2 separate regions of the Homo sapiens genome follow, and region 2 is linked to region 1. The links come from fine-mapping of genetic effects on gene expression. A gene starts in region 1. The other region holds a variant in brackets. All regions are shown on one strand. Distances are between the middles of the regions. Region 1 holds the start of NCAPD2 (non-SMC condensin I complex subunit D2). Region 2 overlaps NCAPD2 (non-SMC condensin I complex subunit D2).

The links.
Region 2: its variant is fine-mapped to the expression of NCAPD2 in whole blood (TOPMed, PIP above 0.99).

Annotation. Positions count from the first base shown.
Region 1 is chr12:6,489,697-6,498,026 of GRCh38, reverse strand. It overlaps NCAPD2 (non-SMC condensin I complex subunit D2), which reads right to left and starts at 3,925. Exons shown (of 32, transcript NM_014865.4): 1 at 3,873-3,925; 2 at 2,802-2,951. The coding sequence starts at 2,928. It overlaps MRPL51 (mitochondrial ribosomal protein L51), which reads left to right and starts at 4,765. Exons shown (of 3, transcript NM_016497.4): 1 at 4,765-4,969; 2 at 5,055-5,165; 3 at 5,560-6,141. The coding sequence starts at 4,891. The coding sequence ends at 5,756. RefSeq lists a silencer at 3,968-4,297 and enhancers at 3,733-4,330, 4,498-4,547.
Region 2 is chr12:6,520,962-6,529,291 of GRCh38, reverse strand. NCAPD2 (non-SMC condensin I complex subunit D2) reads right to left here. Exons shown (of 32, transcript NM_014865.4): 14 at 8,182-8,306; 15 at 7,255-7,494; 16 at 6,290-6,464; 17 at 5,946-6,030; 18 at 3,576-3,709; 19 at 3,092-3,224; 20 at 2,921-3,005; 21 at 2,677-2,844; 22 at 2,229-2,401; 23 at 1,404-1,515; 24 at 1,201-1,324; 25 at 964-1,119; 26 at 436-613; 27 at 253-347. Among named protein-coding and RNA genes, the nearest start is that of GAPDH-DT, 9.3 kb to the left of the region's middle. The variant A/G (reference allele first, on the strand shown) is at 4,837.

The sequences.
Region 1 (8,330 bases):
GAGCCCGAGAGGTTGCAGTGAGCTCGGATGGAGCCACTGCACTCCAGCCTGGGCAACAAAATGAGACCTTGTCTCCAAAAAACAAAAGACTCTTTAAAAAAAAAAAAAGTGGCTGGGCGCGGTGGCTCACGCCTGTAATCCCAGCACTTTGGGAGGTCGAGGCGGGTGGATCATCAGGTCAGGAGTTGGAGACCAGCCTGACCAACATGGTGAAACCCTGTCTCAACTAAAAATACAAAAATTAGCCGGGCGTGGTGGCATTGCCTGTAATCCCAGCTACTTAGGAGGCTGAGGTAGGAGAATCACTTGAACTCGGGAGGCGGAGGCTGCAGTGAGCTGAGATTGCGCCACTGCACTCCAGCCTGGGTGACAGAAGGAGACTCAGTCTCAACAACAACAACAACAAAAAAGTGACAGGAACAAGATCATGTCCTTTGCAGGGACTCAGCAAACTAATGCAAGAACAGAAAACCAAACACTGCATGTTCTTACTTACAAGTGGGAGCTGAACAATGAGATCACATGGACACAGGGAGGGGAACAACACAATGGAGCCTGTTAGAGGGTGGAATGGGGGGAGGGGGAGCATAAGAAAAAAATAGCTAATACATGCTGGGCTTAATACCCAGGTGATGGGTTGATAGGTGCAGCAAACCAACACAGCACGTTTACCTATGTAACAAACTTGCACATCCTGTACGTGTACTCCAGAACTTAAAAAAAAAAAGGTGACCATTTAAAAAAATGATGCATCATTATAATAAGTGAAGAGTAGTTTGTCATAGTATGCAGCATGTTCAATTGGTGACACATATATCCACATGATATGGACAGAATAGTATACCTGTGGACACTGTTGGTTTGCCATCCATTAGGCAACCTCCACACTCTGCCTTCTTCCTTGCTTACCAAATGGTTGATATGCTCAAGTTTAGGGAGGCTCCTAGGTAATAAGCTTGATCAGTTAAACCAGTCTGGGTAATTCTATTTCTCTTACCTGTACAGTCCTGTGCCCTGTAACATTTTGGTAAACAATAGACCACATATGCGACAGTGGTGTCATAAAAATATAATACAGCTGAAAAATTCCCATCGTCTAGTGACTTCTTGGTGACCTTGACCCTGTGTAGGCCTAGGCTAATGTGTGTAGGTGTTTTAGTTTTTAACAAAAAAGTCTGGCCGAGCATGGTGCCTCATGCCTACAATCCCAGCACTTTGGTACATGTCTGTGGTCCCAGCTACTTGGGAGGCTGAGGTGGGAGGACTGCTTGAGCCTGGTAGATTGAGGCTGCAGTGAGCTGTGATCAGGCCACTGCATTCCAGCCTGCAATCCCAGCACTTTGGGAGGCTGAGGCGGGAAGACTGCTTGAGCCCAGAAGTTCGAGACCAGCCTGGGCAACATAGGGAGACACTGTTTCTACAGAAAATTTAAAAATTAGCCAGGTATGGTGGTGCATGTCTGTGATCCCAGCTGCTTGGGAGGCTGAGGTGAGAGGATTGCTTGAGTCTGGGAAGTTGAGGCTGCAGTGAGCCGTGATCATGCCACTGGACTCCAGCCTGGGCAAGAGAGTCTTTACCTTGTCTTTCAAAATAAAATAAAGAATAAAAAGTACAAAAAGAAAATTCCTTTTTCCACTTCTGGACATTAGAGGAAGAAGCTGCCATCTAGACTGGTGCAGTGGCTCACGCCTATAATCCTAACACTTTGGGAGGCCAAGGTGGGTGGATCATGTGAGGTCAGGAGTTCAAGACCAGCCTGGCCAACATGGTGAAATCCCGTCTCTACTAAAAATACAAAAATTAGCCAGGTGGTAGTGGCGTGCACCTGTAATCCTAGCTACTTGGGAGGCTGAAGCAGGAGAATCGCTTGAGCCTGGGGAGGCAGAGGTTGTGGTGAGCCGATATCGCATCACTGCACTCCAGTCTGGGCAACAGAGTGAGACCCTGTCTCAAAAAAAAAAAAAAAAGAAAAACAAAAAGAAGTTGCAATCTAGCAACCATGAAAGAAAAGCCAAGAGGAGACAAGCTAGGACCATATTGTCGAGCTGCTGCATTAACCAACCCTTCTTCTTGTAGGTGATAACAAAGGAATTGGTTATTATCTCTATATTTACAGATGACGAAACCAAGGCACTGAGACAATTAAGTAACTTGTCTAAGGTCAGAGTGGTAGAACCAGGATTCAAATCCAGGCAGCCTGGCTCCAGTCTTTAATCTCTATACCTCTCCAAAGCAAGCTAACTGCTACAAGACCGCTCCCAACAAGTACAAGGACATTATGAAGTCTTTCTGGTAATGCAAAAGGTGCTTTTGATCATTTACAGGTTTCAGTAGGTGACTGCACTGTACATATATTGCTCAGTGTTGCAGTGGTACATATATATTATGGGTTTTTGTCCCCATAATTGCACATCCAAAAAGACTCCAAAAAGGTATTACCAAAAACAGGTCGAGTTAAGTCCGAGACATTCTGAAAAAGCGATCCACTCCTATAACTCTTAAATCCACCAGGACTTAATTTTGACACACAGTAAGGGGTAAAGATGGAAAATAACTTTTCCCCAAAGAGTAATCACATACACCAAGACTGTTTTTGACTAATCCAGAAAAGGAAGTTAATGAATGTACTCTTTGGGTCATGCATCCCATGCAATTTTAGGATAAAACAGCAAAATAGGAAAAACATGTTTCTTGCTCTTATGATGCTTCCTGGTGTAGTGGAACAGAAATGACAATGTAGCAATTCCATGTGAGATGGTCCTTTGAAAGAGCTAGGTACAGTGACAGCTATGGACTCTTACCTCTAAGCTGTGGTGGAAGATGTTTGATGGACAGTACCTCTTGCACAACATACTGATTCACCCCTCCACTTTTCAACAACTCCTCTGGGGATAATGGCAGATGGAACTCATACATTTGGGGAGCCATTCTACTCCTACAGGCTCACAGGGCTAGAAACCAAACAGTGAAAAAGTCAGGGTCTATATTCAAGACCTGTCTTCGTATCTGGTTCTATTACTTTCCCATCCCCAACATATATAATGGCTTTTAGTTTTATAGCAAGCTAGTAACATCATCTGGTTTTGTTAGTTCCCCACCCCCAACATATATAATGGTTTTTAGTTTTATAGCAAGCTAGTAACATTATCTTACGGGATCTGAGATTGACCCTGGACTAGAAACTAATTCTAGTAGTGACTTTGGCACTTGGTCTTGACACTTAAACCTCTGGGCTTTATCTGTAAAAACAGGGTTACTAAACTCTGATTACTTCACAAAGTTGCTCTGATGATCAAACAAATCAAGCAGTACGAAGGTGTTTAAAGAACTATAAAGTGGCATATTAATGTGCAAAGTACTATTATTTCCATTTTTATGTGCAAAGCTCCTTAAGTATAGAGAGAATGGTCTGATCTCGTCTGAGGCCAAAACAGTGCCCCAGCATGGGCTAGTGGGCTTCCTGCACCAGAATGGTAAGAGCATTAACAATGATGATTTATTTATCCTGTGCCAAGTCTGTTAGGCTGTTTGCATGTATCATATCTGATCTAAGTATCCTAACCTCAATCCCATGAGGTGCATAATAATACAAATGAGTTTACAGAGCGGAAATTGAAGTAAGAAAGTTAAGCGATTTGCTTAACATCTTCCGTTGCGGATCTGTTAAGCGATTTGCTTAACATCTTCCGTTGCGGATCTGTTAAGCGATTTGCTTAACAACTTCCGTTGCGGATCTGTCAGACTTACAGTTTCTCACACATCGCGCCCCAGGGATATACTTACTAGGCCTATTGTATTTTGCCCAAGACTGGGTCACACTGCCATGTACTCGACTTTCCTACTCTTTTACGACCTGCAACACCACATCTTACCTGGGGATCTCACCCGCGGCTCTGATTCCGGCAGTCAGGCTGAAATGAAAAGGAAAAAACACGCGTGCACAACACGCACCAATTAGCAAGGCAGTTTTCAAGTCGGCGGAGAATCCGGCCAATCCCCGGCAGGCAGAGGCAAAGGGCCGCCTCTGAGTCTGGCAACGCGCGGGCAAAGCCACAAATACCGAGTTCAAATCTCAACGGCTGCAGGACGGCCAATCGCGACGCCCGCCGGAGCGGCCGGCCAATCACAGCGCCGCCCGGGGGCGGGCCAAGGCTCCGGCTCCGGCCCCCGCTCCCACCCCCGGCCCGCCTGCGAATCCCTCCTTGGCCGCAAGGTCCCCCTTTGCCCAGTCGGCGGGGAGGAGGCCGTATTTCTGCTGGCCAGAGACGTCGCGTCCCTGGCTGGGCATTCAGTCACCCCCAGGAAAGGAGGCAAGTCCACGCTGGGAGTTAGAAGGCATCGCCTCTAATCCAGGTTTCGCCATCTCCTCTGCTAAGTGACGTCCAGCAAGTCACTTCACTTTCAGGACCTCAAATCTCCTCCCCAGTAGTAAAATAGGGGTAATAAAAACAGCTACAGCGGAAGACTGTTGTGAGGCACAGAGAAAGGGCTTGGTCATTGGAAGCGGGTTCCAGGTTCTCAACCTTCATTTCCTTCACGGTTGAAGGACGCCAAAGAAAGCGGAAAGGGTGAATTTTCTTGAAATCTCAGTTTTGGGGAATCTTAGCGACGAGTCGCGGACCTCAGCTTGTCCGGCGCTCCAAAACTTCCGGCAGGCGGACCGGAAGCACTGAGGCGGGAAGGGTGGTAGAGGCCCCTCCTGCCGGAACCCGGGGGGCGGGGCTCGTGGCTGTTGCGGATGGGGCGTAGGTGGGCGGTGCGCCCACAGCTGCCTGGGTAAGGCCCAAGATGGCTGTCTTCGCCTTAGTACTCGTGTGAAGTTGGCGGGGACGGTTCCTGTCATCTTCTTGGGCTTATTTGGTGTGCTGTTGAAGGGGGGAGACTAGAGAAATGGCAGGGAACCTCTTATCCGGGGCAGGTAGGCGCCTGTGGGACTGGGTGCCTCTGGCGTGCAGAAGCTTCTCTCTTGGTAAGTGGCTGATGTAGGCACCCCGATAACTGCTTCGTAGTATAATAGGCGGCTCAGATTAATTCCCTCCCTTCCCCATCCCCAGGTGTGCCTAGATTGATCGGTATAAGGCTCACTCTCCCGCCCCCCAAAGTGGTTGATCGTTGGAACGAGAAAAGGGCCATGTTCGGAGTGTATGACAACATCGGGATCCTGGGTAAGACTTGACCTTCGACGTGGTACACAATTTCAGAATGGCAATTAGGCTGTAACGACTATCTTTTCCTCCTGTGTAGAGAGTGGTACTGTGCTCAATAGTAAGAGCAAACACTTATGTAGCTGTTTACATTGTGTTTGGCACTGTTCTGAGTCCCCTCGTATAATTTTTACTTCATAAGTAAAAATAAACAGTTTTTCCAAAGTTAATAAATGGCAGCATCAGAATTTTAACCCCAAGCAGTCTGGCTCCAGAGTCTGTGCTATTGTTCTGTACTGTAATGTTCCTTGTCTATAGGTGCTGCTCAGCAAGATGCAACCGTGGGTTGAAAGCTTAGCTGGTGTAGGATGAGTTCTCTTGTCTTGGATCTAATGTGTTCTCTCACATTACACAGGAAACTTTGAAAAGCACCCCAAAGAACTGATCAGGGGGCCCATATGGCTTCGAGGTTGGAAAGGGAATGAATTGCAACGTTGTATCCGAAAGAGGAAAATGGTTGGAAGTAGAATGTTCGCTGATGACCTGCACAACCTTAATAAACGCATCCGCTATCTCTACAAACACTTTAACCGACATGGGAAGTTTCGATAGAAGAGAAAGCTGAGAACTTCGGAAAAGGCTCATCTGTCACCCTGGAGAAGGGAAACTGTACTTTTCCCTGTGAGGAAACGGCTTTGTATTTTCTCTGTAATAAAATGGGGCTTCTTTGGAATTTGATAGCCACATACTTTTGTTTTCCTCTAGATGCTGCCTCTACTCATGTAGACTATGAAGTCTTGACTCATCCTAGATCTTAGGATCTTAGGTTTGGGCTTCACACCACTTGCCTTTTACAGTCTAGCTATACCTAATTCCTTTAAAAAGAAAAGTTGGTGAGAATGTTATTGGCGCTTTTTGACATAATGCTGTTATGTTAATAGTGTTTCTAAAGAGCCTTCCACACTGAAATGAAATATAAGAGAAAAATGGAGTCATACTTCTGTACTACTCTCATAAAATATTTATTAGGCATATTCTCTGAGTAGGAACTATAGGAAAAACAAAAAAGTGTGAGGTGTCCTTTCCATTTAAATATGAAACATTAAGTACCATATGAATGGTAGAGATGGCGGATACTAAGCCTGACTGGTCATCAGTTTTCTGGGTGTTTTAACATTTCAAAAGCCTAGTCCTAACCCCTAAAGATTGATCAGTAGAGCTGAGTTGAGTCTAGGGCATCTATGTGTTTTGTTCTTTTTTAATAATAATTTTTAAGAATTACAGCTGGGCAGAATGGTGCCCACATGTAATCCCAGCATTTTGGGAGGCTGAGGTGGGAGGATTGCTTGGAGACAGGAATTTGAGACTGGTCTGGGCGACATGGTGAAACTCCGTCTCTACTAAAAATAAAGTGGCTGGGTGCGGTGGCTCCTGCCTGTAATCCCAGCACCTTGGGAGGCGGAGGGGGGCGGACCACGAGCTCAGGAGATCGAGACTATCCTGGCTAACACAGCCCTGTCTCTACTGAAAATACAAAAACAAACAAACAAAAAAATTAGCCAGGAGTGGTGGCGGACACCTGTAGTCCCAGCTACTCAGGTGTCTGAGGCAGGAGAATCACTTGAACCTGGGAGGTGGAGCTTGCAGTGAGCCGAGATCGTGCCACTGCACTCCAGCCTGAGCAACAGAGCAAGACTCTGTCTCAAAAAAAAAAAAAAAACAACTTAGCTGGGCATGGTTCTGCATGCCTGTAGTTCCAGCTACTCATGGTTCTGCGTGCCTGCAGTCCCAGCTACACAAGAGGCTGAGGTGGGAAGATCACCTGAGCCCAGGAGTTTGAGGCTGCAGTGAGCTGAGATCATGCCACTGCATTCCAGCCTGAGCAACTGGGGTGAGACTGTCTCAAAAAAAAAAAAAAAAAAAAAGTGAAGTTAGGGCTGGGTGCAGTGGCTCACACCTGTAAGCCCAACACTTTGGGAGGCCAAGGCATGAGGATTGCTTGAAGCCAGGAGTTCAAGACCAGCCTGGGCAACATAGCAAGACCCCATCTCTATATTTTAAAAAACAAAAACTCCATAAAAGTGAAGTTAGATTAATAAATACTTGTTGCGGGGCATGGTGGTTGGAGCACACTTATAATCCCAGCTACTCTGCAGGCTGAGGTGGGAGGATCCTTTGAAACCAGGAGTTGGAGGCCAGCCTTAGGAACATAGCAAGACCCCATCTTCAATAAAAATAAAAAGCACTTGTTAAATTACAAGTGGGTTTTGGATAAATGGATTGATGGGTATATATGAAAACATGATCCTGGGTCTTACGGAAATGTTTAGGAGAGTCAGTTTTCAGAGGGGTGGCTGGAAGGAGCTATGCATAAGAATGGAGAAGTTGATGTGAAATGTGAGTGGCTGTATACTTTACATGATTTGGTGGTGCTAGAGTGGAGAAAATAAAATATTTGGGACTCTGCTAAGTGCAAGGTGCCCTGAAGAAGATATCTACATATCCTGGTAGAGTATCTGATTGTTAGGGAAGAGGAAATTAATAGGTCAATAGGCATTTATAGAATATTTCCTGATTCAAAGATACAAAAGGTTTTGTTTTCAAGGACAGAACAATCTTGTTTGTGGTATGAAACAGTATATAACGTTTTCTTTGAATAAATATTGAATTATTATGTGCAAAGATATTTGGAGGAACAAAAATCACCAAGGTAGGGTTGGTTCCTACCTCTAAGTAGTCTTCATTCTACTTAAAAGATGTCCGGTGGCTCACACCTGTAATCCCAGCACTTTGGAAGGCCTAGGTGGGCGGATCACGAGGTCAGGAGATCAAGACCATCCTGGCCAACATGGTGAAACCTCGTCTGTACTAAAAATACAAAAAAATTAGCCAGGTATAGTGGTGTGTGCCTGTAATCCCAGCTACTCGGGAGGCTGAGGCAGGAGAATCGCTTGAATCCGGGAGACAGAGAGGTTGCAGTGAGCTGAGATTGCACCATGCACTTCAGCCTGGGCAACAGAGGGAGACTCTGTCTTTAAAAAAAGAAAAAAAAAAAAAAAAAGACGTCTGAAGGATGTAAAGTTACAAGATGGTGGACCAATGTGATACTCTGCAGAATGTGCAAATGGTCCACATTTTTTAGATTACATCATGACAGAGAACAGAATTAACATAGCCCTGATGAAA
Region 2 (8,330 bases), 31 kb before region 1:
AGCTGCTAGGGAGTGAGTGCTACTGTATGTCTGCCACCATGTTAGGAACTTTATCGTATTTAATATTTTCAAGAACTAAGGGTTAAGTATCATCAGCCTCAAAAGAAGAGGAAATAGGCACAAAGAGAGGCTAAGTTATTGCCGAAGGCTGTACAGCTAAAGAGTAGCCGAGGTGGAATTCAAATACAGGTGTGTCTGATTCCTAAGCCCGTGCTATGTGGAAAATGTGCCCCAGGGCCCGGGGAGCAATACTTCATGATGGTGTGGAAAGGCTCTTCCTCCACCCCCAGCTCGGGGTCTGACAGGCGGCTGATGATATCTGGAAGGAGATTATAGATTGCGTTGCCCTGTAAGACAGAGAGAGCCATGTTAAGGAGATGAGGTGACCTACAGATTCCCTCTGCAGCCAGCCCTCAGTGCCTCTCTGCCTCTCACCTTGTGGGAGAGCTCATTGAAGAAGTTCTTGGCCAGGGCAGCAATCTGAGGCTCGGGGTCGATGAGCAGCACCGCCATCTCGCTGACCTGCCCCTTCACCTTCACCATGTCCTTGAGGATCAGGTGGGTCATCACCAGCCCCGCTGTTTTCCGCACTTGCTGAGCAGGGTCCCGGAGACTAGGAATGGAATTGCGGGTCATGGGGACCGAGACCTCCGGGCTACACCCTAACACTGGTAGAAAAGGCCCTCAGCAGGAATCAATTATCCCATGCTCTGCCACTCCAGAAGCAGTCAGAAAGCTGTCTAGAGTTGAAAGCTGGAGTGGGGGAAAGAGGTGAAGCTTCTAACCAGAAGTGTCAGTCCCACTGGGGTGACTCTTAGCCAGGGGCCTGTACAGGTCAAGTATCAAGCAGATGTTCGCGGTGATGCCAAAGCCTAGGGGAAGAGCCCTGGTGATTCTCACACTGACTCTCAACAGACTCCGGGGCTCCTGGGAACTGCCACCACGTTGTGAGGGGTCTCTTACCGAGCATACAGATGAGGAGTCCAGGGGTCCACCAGATTGGGAAAGCGGATGGCCAGATCCCCAGTGGCAACCATGAGGTTAGACCGGACAATGGGAAGTGGAGACTTTTCCAGCATGGTGAACAGAAGACGAAGCTGGGAGTCGCAGAAAGTGGCACTAAGAGCAAGAAGAGGATCATTAGGGAAGCCATTTCATCCCCATCTTCCTTGAGAAGGGGGTACCAACCCCACGGCCTACCTGATCATGCAGAACTTGCCAAGGGCAAGTGAAGCAGCTGCAGAGAGGTCTGGGTTGCTATAGAGGCCTGGGTTGTTACAGACTTTAAGCAAGAGTGGAACAAAGGCAGCCAGTGTCTGTTTGCCTGTTGGAAGAGTAACTGCAGGTTTGGGACAGGTTATCTTAATTGGGAAGAAACTGCTGAGTGCAGCCATTTTTCTTACCATCCAACAGTTCCATCTCGCAGATGCCACGGATTAGTTCTGCCTCTGTGTCATCTGCTGTTGCCCCAACCAGCCCCAGCTCCTCCTCCATGGTGGTCTCAGAGCTCGTATTCTAAAGGGAATGAAATTGGGGATCATGGATAAGCAGAGACAACATTTTTGATTCCAGCCCATACTTTGTTTTGCATGAACAAAGTGAGGAAGGGCAAATTCTACAAAAACATTTAGAGAATTGTCAAATGTGTCTGTAAAGAGAAAGGATTCCTGAATTAAGCAGGGGAACAATGAGGTCCCCATTTGTTTTAAGTTGCCAAAGCGTGTTTCTGCACCTCTTCCTCATGGAAGACATCGTTTCCTATATATGGTAAACAGATGGATCACGCCAGACAATGGTTCAAAGTCACAGAGGTCAGACTTTTCTCCAGCGCTGCAAGGCTCTGTGTCTTATTTGTCTGCAAGACATCATTGCCTCTAGTGGAGGGAACACAGGGCCCCATCCGGGGCCAGGCCAGCAATGGAAGCTGATGGAAAAGGCCGGCGGGTACGTGCGTGTTCTAACAAACCCTGCCTCAGACACAAAGCCTCTGTTTTATGCTGAGGTCTCTAACTCCACACTCTGCATTTACCTAAATCTTTCCTTCCTGGGTGATCACTGACAGTTTCGTCATTGTTCACACGAACCTTTCCTACGGTAGTAGCCACAGAGAGGCAGAAACTCTTCGCTTCATGTAATAGCAGAGGAGCAGAGATTGCCGGAAGGGGATCAGCTCAGTTCTGAGCTGAGGTATGAAATAAATCTGGGAAGTGCTGAGGACATTCACACACCTTCTCCTTGGGATCTTTGGTCTTGTGCTCCTGTTCTTCCCGGAGAACTCGGCGCCGGCAGAGCTCTCCACTCACTGCCTGCTCCAAGTGGACCAGCTGCTGCAGAGCCACATCCCCAGCCAGGGACAGCAGGTTCATCAACAGGAAAGTGGGGAGCATTGCGGGGGACTCCTCTGGAGGAGAGGGAGAGGGAAGGTGGGGCAAAGAGACATTTTTAAGTCCCATCAAACCTGAATCCGATTTTTACTGATCTTCCCCTTGCTCACGTGCTATTCAAACTAGTGAAGTAGTAAGAGTTGGGGGTGGGAACTGGCCCAACTTCAACTTAGACAAAAACGACACAGTGTACACTAAGGGTTGTTGCAGATAGTGGTGGTGGCAGTGGCTCCTGGCCCTGCAGGGAGAACAGAAGCTGGCTGCCGCAGTGGGTCAACCCCTGCCCACTTACTCGGGTCCTCCTGACTGGTTCTCTTCTCTTCTAGCTTCTCCAGGGCCTGTTTTGCACAGCCCTGCAATATCTGGGCACAGATCACTTCGGGGCCCTCTGCCAGTTGGTAAATGAGGGTCACTGCCACCTCTTTGAATGGGATCCAGAGTGGGTCTGGGTGGACAAAGCCTGCAGAGGAGGAGGGAGAAGTTGTTTACTGCAACAAAGGGCCCAATTCTGCCCAAGGCCTTCCCTGAGAGCTCACCTTTTGTGACTGTCTCCCGCAGTCGCTCAAACAACCTGTGTTCCTGAGGCAGCCGGAAGGGGGGGTGACGTTTGCCCAGAGAAGGCTGTGGAGAGCAAGACAACGTGGGTGTGTGTACAGGGTGGACACGAGAATCTCCACTCTCCTTAGTTTGGAACCACCCCCACATACCTTTCTCCTGTCCGAGATGTTGGCAATGGCATGGCACACCTGCTGGGCCAGCCTGTAGTCCTGTGGAAACTTCTCATCCAGCCCTATGCTCACCAGTGTGTCTAAATTGCTTCCCACAATTTCTGGCTTTCCTCTAGGGGAAGGAAGCCACAGAGTTAAAGGCAGTCATGGATTGGACTCATCGGGGGAGAAAGGGCCAATAGGGGTAGGTACCAGCACCTCATGTGGTGTCTAGAGCCGTGGAGCACTATAGCGTGGCTCTGCCGCAGGGCCAGCCTCTTGGGTCCTGTTGCTTTACTGAATCCCACTACTACTAGGCAGGAGGGCTGGTCCTCTCACTATTTGCTTTTCCATTTAGGTGGCGTTATAACTCACAGCAGAGCTCAGTTGGGCCTCACTGTGACAATGTCACTGAAGGAAAAGGAGCCCTCTCAGAACCTTCCTTTGCTCTCCCACCCCATTGCCTGCTAGATTTGAGCCTCACCGTGCCATCATGCCAAGAAGCATGACAGAGGAACAGCGCTCCAGAGGACAGCAGGCGACCTTCTCGGTGGCCCGCTCCCACAGCAGCTGGGTCACTGCTGGTTTCAACTCATCCTTCTGCACAAACTCACAGAGCTAAAGAGAAAAGAAAAAGGGCTCAAGCCAAAAATGAACAATTCCTTGATCTTTGGTCTGCTTTTCTGAAGATGATATTGCGAACCTGAAGTAGACAAAAGTAATACTTAGGAAGAGAAAAAGAAAAGAGGAGGTTCAAAATGTACAGCAGGGTCTTGAGAGGCTTTCCATTCTCTACTTTTCTACTCTCATGCCTTCAAAACTATTTTATTCAAGTGACATATCGAAACTGACCTTTTGAGTTCCACGTGGGTCCATAGTTCTAAGTCTGGAGATTTCTAACAGGTTTTCTTGCCGTTACCACAAACTCAACATGTCCAACATGGAAGCCATCATCCTTCCTTGCCTTTTCATTTTGCCAGTGGTATCAACACTCTATCAGTAATATGTGCTTAAAATTTCGGTCATCTAATTTTTTTACAAATCAGTCACTATTTTTCCTTTAAAAATTTGTCTTCCATTAAGCCCATTCTGCAGTGATTTCTCCAATCCTCAAGTCCAGCCCCTCGTTACTGCCCACTGCAGCAGCCTCCACGGGCCTTCCTTCCCATGGGTTGGTCTCCTCAGCCTCTGCTTCCCCACGTCCCTTCTGTTGCACCCCAGTTTGCAGGTGCTCTCCCCTGCCTCTTGTAGGGCTTTTGCCGGTAACTGACCTATGACATCATGGCCAATCACCACCACCAGGCTCTTTTCTTTTCCCCAGTGAGGAGAAAAATGTGGCTGGCAGGAGCACGCTTCCCAGCGCCACCTCCACTCTCTGTGCCCGCAATGCAAATGCTACAAAGCAGAATGTCTCACTAAAATGCTGGGTGCCTGGCTAACACAGTTAAAGTCCTAGACTCCTGAAGTCATTCAGGGACTTCCACAGTTTAGTTCCAACCTACATTCACAACTTTATTATCTTTTCCAGATTTTTTTTTTTTTTTTTTTTTTTGAGACAGAGTCTCCCTCTGTCGCCCAGGCTGGAGTGCAGTGGCGCAATCTCGGCTCACTGCTACCTCCACCTCCTGGGTTCAAGCAACTGTCCTGCCTCAGCCTCCCAAGTAGCTGGGACTACAGGTGCCCACCACCACACCTGGCTAATTTTTTTGTATTTTTAGTAAAGGTGGGGTTTCGCCATGTTGACC[A/G]GGCTGGTCTCGAACTCCTGACCTCAGACCTCAGGTAATCTGCTGCCTTGGCCTCCCAAAGTGCTGGGATTACAGACGTGAGCCATCGCGCCTGGTCTTTTCCAGATAATTTGAACCAGAACACAGTCTTCTTTGTTCTACAATGTGAACTGTGCTCTTTCTTGGGTTCTGTTTGAAATGCCCTCCCTCCTTGCTCTGATTCTCTAAATCCTACTCATCTTTCAAGACCCAGCTTAAGTCCTACCACCTTCAGGAAGCTTCCTTGACCATTCTACCCCAAACCGCTCTCTTTCCTACTCTGTATCCCTCAGTAGAACACAGAAGTTAAGAGTATGTTTTCTAGAGCTCTTATTGCCTGAGTTTGAATCTCAAACTTTGCCACTAACTAGCTGTAACCAGCCAAGTTCAGTAACTTCTCTGTGCCTCAGATTTCTCATTGTAAAATGCAGATAATGCTACCTCACAGGGCTGTCGTGAGGATTAAACAAGTTACTGTGAGTAACGTGTGAGTGCCTGTCATATATTCAATACCATATAAGTGAGGTTGTTATTATTGCTATGACAACCATTACCCGTACAACTCATTCTGGCACTTTATTATCTACCTGCTGCATTGTTCTAAAAATGTTCTGTGGTTTTTCACTACCAACTAGACTGTTGGTTCCTTTAAAGTTGGGAACATGAAAGCAAATAGTCTTATACTTCTTTCTGGAGCTAAGTAAATTGCTAAATACATAGTAATAACTCAATAATACTTGTTGCCGGGCGCTTTGGCTCACGCCTGTAATCCCAGCACTCTGGGAGGTTGAGGCGGGTGGATCACGAGGTCAAGGGTTCGAGACCAGCTCGGCCAACATGGTGAAACCCCGTCTCTACTAAAGATACAAAAAACTAGTCGGGCATGGTGGCACATGCATGTAATTCCAGTTACTCGGGAGGCTGAGGCAGGAGAATTGCTTGAACCTGGGAGGCGGAGGTTGCAGTGAGCCAAGATTGTGCCATTGCACTCCAGCCTGGGCAATGGGGCATGACTCCGTCTCAAAAAAAAAAAAAAAAACAACCAAAATACTTGTTGAATGAATAAAGAAAGAGAAAGCAGGAAGCCTTACAATTTCCTCAAGACACTGAATGGTCCCAACCGAGGCATCCACTAGCAGCAGAGAGAGATTCTGAATCAAAGCCTGGGCCTTGGCTCTGTGGGAACAGCAGAGATCAGCGGTCACTATAAGATTGGGAAGCTGAACTTGGCAAACAGTGATTAGGGCTATCCCACCACAGTGCTACAAAACTGCTCTCCCTGGAAACCGAGCCCCACCCTAAGCCCCACTATGATGGACTGCCTATGGATCTGGAACTCCCCTGGAGAAATGCACCTCTTCCTTTAGGAGACAAGGGAAGTCCTGTGAGAAGCTGACCTTGGAAAAGTCAGCAAAGGCAAAAGCACCCCATATACCTGGCAGAGTCCCCTTTGGGGTTGAGGTAGAGTTGGCGGTAGGCATTAAGCACGGCTTCCCGGACACCAGGCTCCTTAGACCAGATGAGAGGCAGCATACGGCGCACCCCAAACAGGGCCTGGGGTACCCCAAATTGGAAGACCATCACAAAGAATTCAATCACCTCCTGCACCACTGAGAGAACATGTACAAATGTCACCTATCTACTTCACAAAACTCCCCCAATACCTAACGACAGAACCTTTCTGAATGTAGCAAGATGCAAATGGAGGCCTTCCGCATTTTCCCTGAGAATGTCGACTCCTCCTATGATGCCTTATCATGAAATACTATATGCATTAAAATGTATAAGCTGTAAGTGGCTAGAGGAAGCAAACAGAAAAAAAGAACCCCTGCCTTTTTTTTTTCTTTTCTTAAGACACAGGTTCTTATTCTGTTGCTCCGGCTAGAGTGCAGTGGCATGACCACAGCTCACTGTAGCCTCAAACTCCCGGGCTCAAGCAATCCTCCTGCCCAGCCTTCCGAGTAGCTGGAACTACAGGTGCGTGCCATCACGCCCAGTTAGTTTTTGTTTCTTTGTAGAGATGGGGTCTTGCTATGTTGCCCAGGCTGCTCTCGAACTCCTGGCCTCAACCTGTCTTCCTGCTTTGGCCTCCCAGTTTTGTAGGGATTACAGGCATGAGCCATCGCGCCCAGCCGAGAACCCCTGCCTTTTAAAGGAGCAGATAGATATATCAATAAAATATGGAAAAGAACTCCAAGATCCATGGCCGGGTGCAGTGGCTCACACCTGTAATACCAGCACTTTGGGAGGCTGACGCAGAAGAATTGCCTGAGCCCAGGAGTTGGAGACCAGCCTGAGCAACAAAGGAAGGCCCCATCTCTATTGTTAATAAAAATTTAAAAAATTAAAAAATCCAAAAGAACCCCAAGGCTGTCCTTATAGAAAGGGACTCTGGCATACCTGTAGTTGTGTTTTCATACATCATCTTGCTGATGATGCCAATGGCCTCTGTAATCTTCCGGGAGAAGCTGTAGGCATCCTGCAGATACTGTACCAGCATCTCCTGCTTCACTAGTTCATCATTTCCCCTGGATTCCTCAGGATCCGACATATTGGGTTTATTTTTACAGACAGTCTGTCCTGTGACCATGTTTCCTGTAGACTCCCGGGGATTCTTTTCTTGTGTGGAAGCTGCTGGGCCTAAGGAGTTAGAGAAGTACAGGATGGTTTCGTTCAAGGGGATACAGGGGAATCCAACAGCTGTCAACATTCCTGGATATTTACTTATTTATTTTCCTTCTTCTTTTCTTTTGAGATGGGGTCTCACTCTGTTGCCTAGGCTGTGCAGTGGCAATGATCACCGCTCACTGCAGCCTCAACTTCCCCGGGCTAAGGTGATTCTCTCACTTCAGCTCCTGAGCAGTTGGGACTACAGGTGCGTGCCACCGCACCTGGCTAATTTTTTTTTGGTATCCCTTGTAGAGATGGGGGTTTCGTCATGTTGCTCAGGCTGATTTTCAACTCCTGGGCTCAAGCAATCCTCCTGCCTTGGCCTCCCAAAGTGTTAGGATTACAGGCATAAGCCACGACATCTGGCCCTGGATATCTCTTTTCACAATGTGAAGATATGAAATTAAAACTTACTCTAAAATATCTAAATTTCTCAAAAACCATACCTAAAGACCGCTATGGTCTGGACAGTCACCCTGTGACTATCAATCTTAGGCCCGTGGGCTGCTTCCATTCCAGAGCAAAAGTAATGCCAATTCATCTCTGGGCTCTTCAGCACCAGGTTCTGTTAACCAGGCCAATGATGGCATAAAGTTAATGCTCAGTAAATACCAGTTGACATGTGTTATTTATTGACTGAAGAAGGAAAATGATTACCTTTGAAGATAAGTCCTAAGATATTCAAGAGCCTGGTCTCCTCTGACTCCTCTGGGTCTATATGACTGAAGGGTTCGGACTCCTGGAAGTGGCCTGTGGCTTCTCGAGTGAGAATGATGGCCTTTCTGAAAGAACACCAGCCTGTCAGT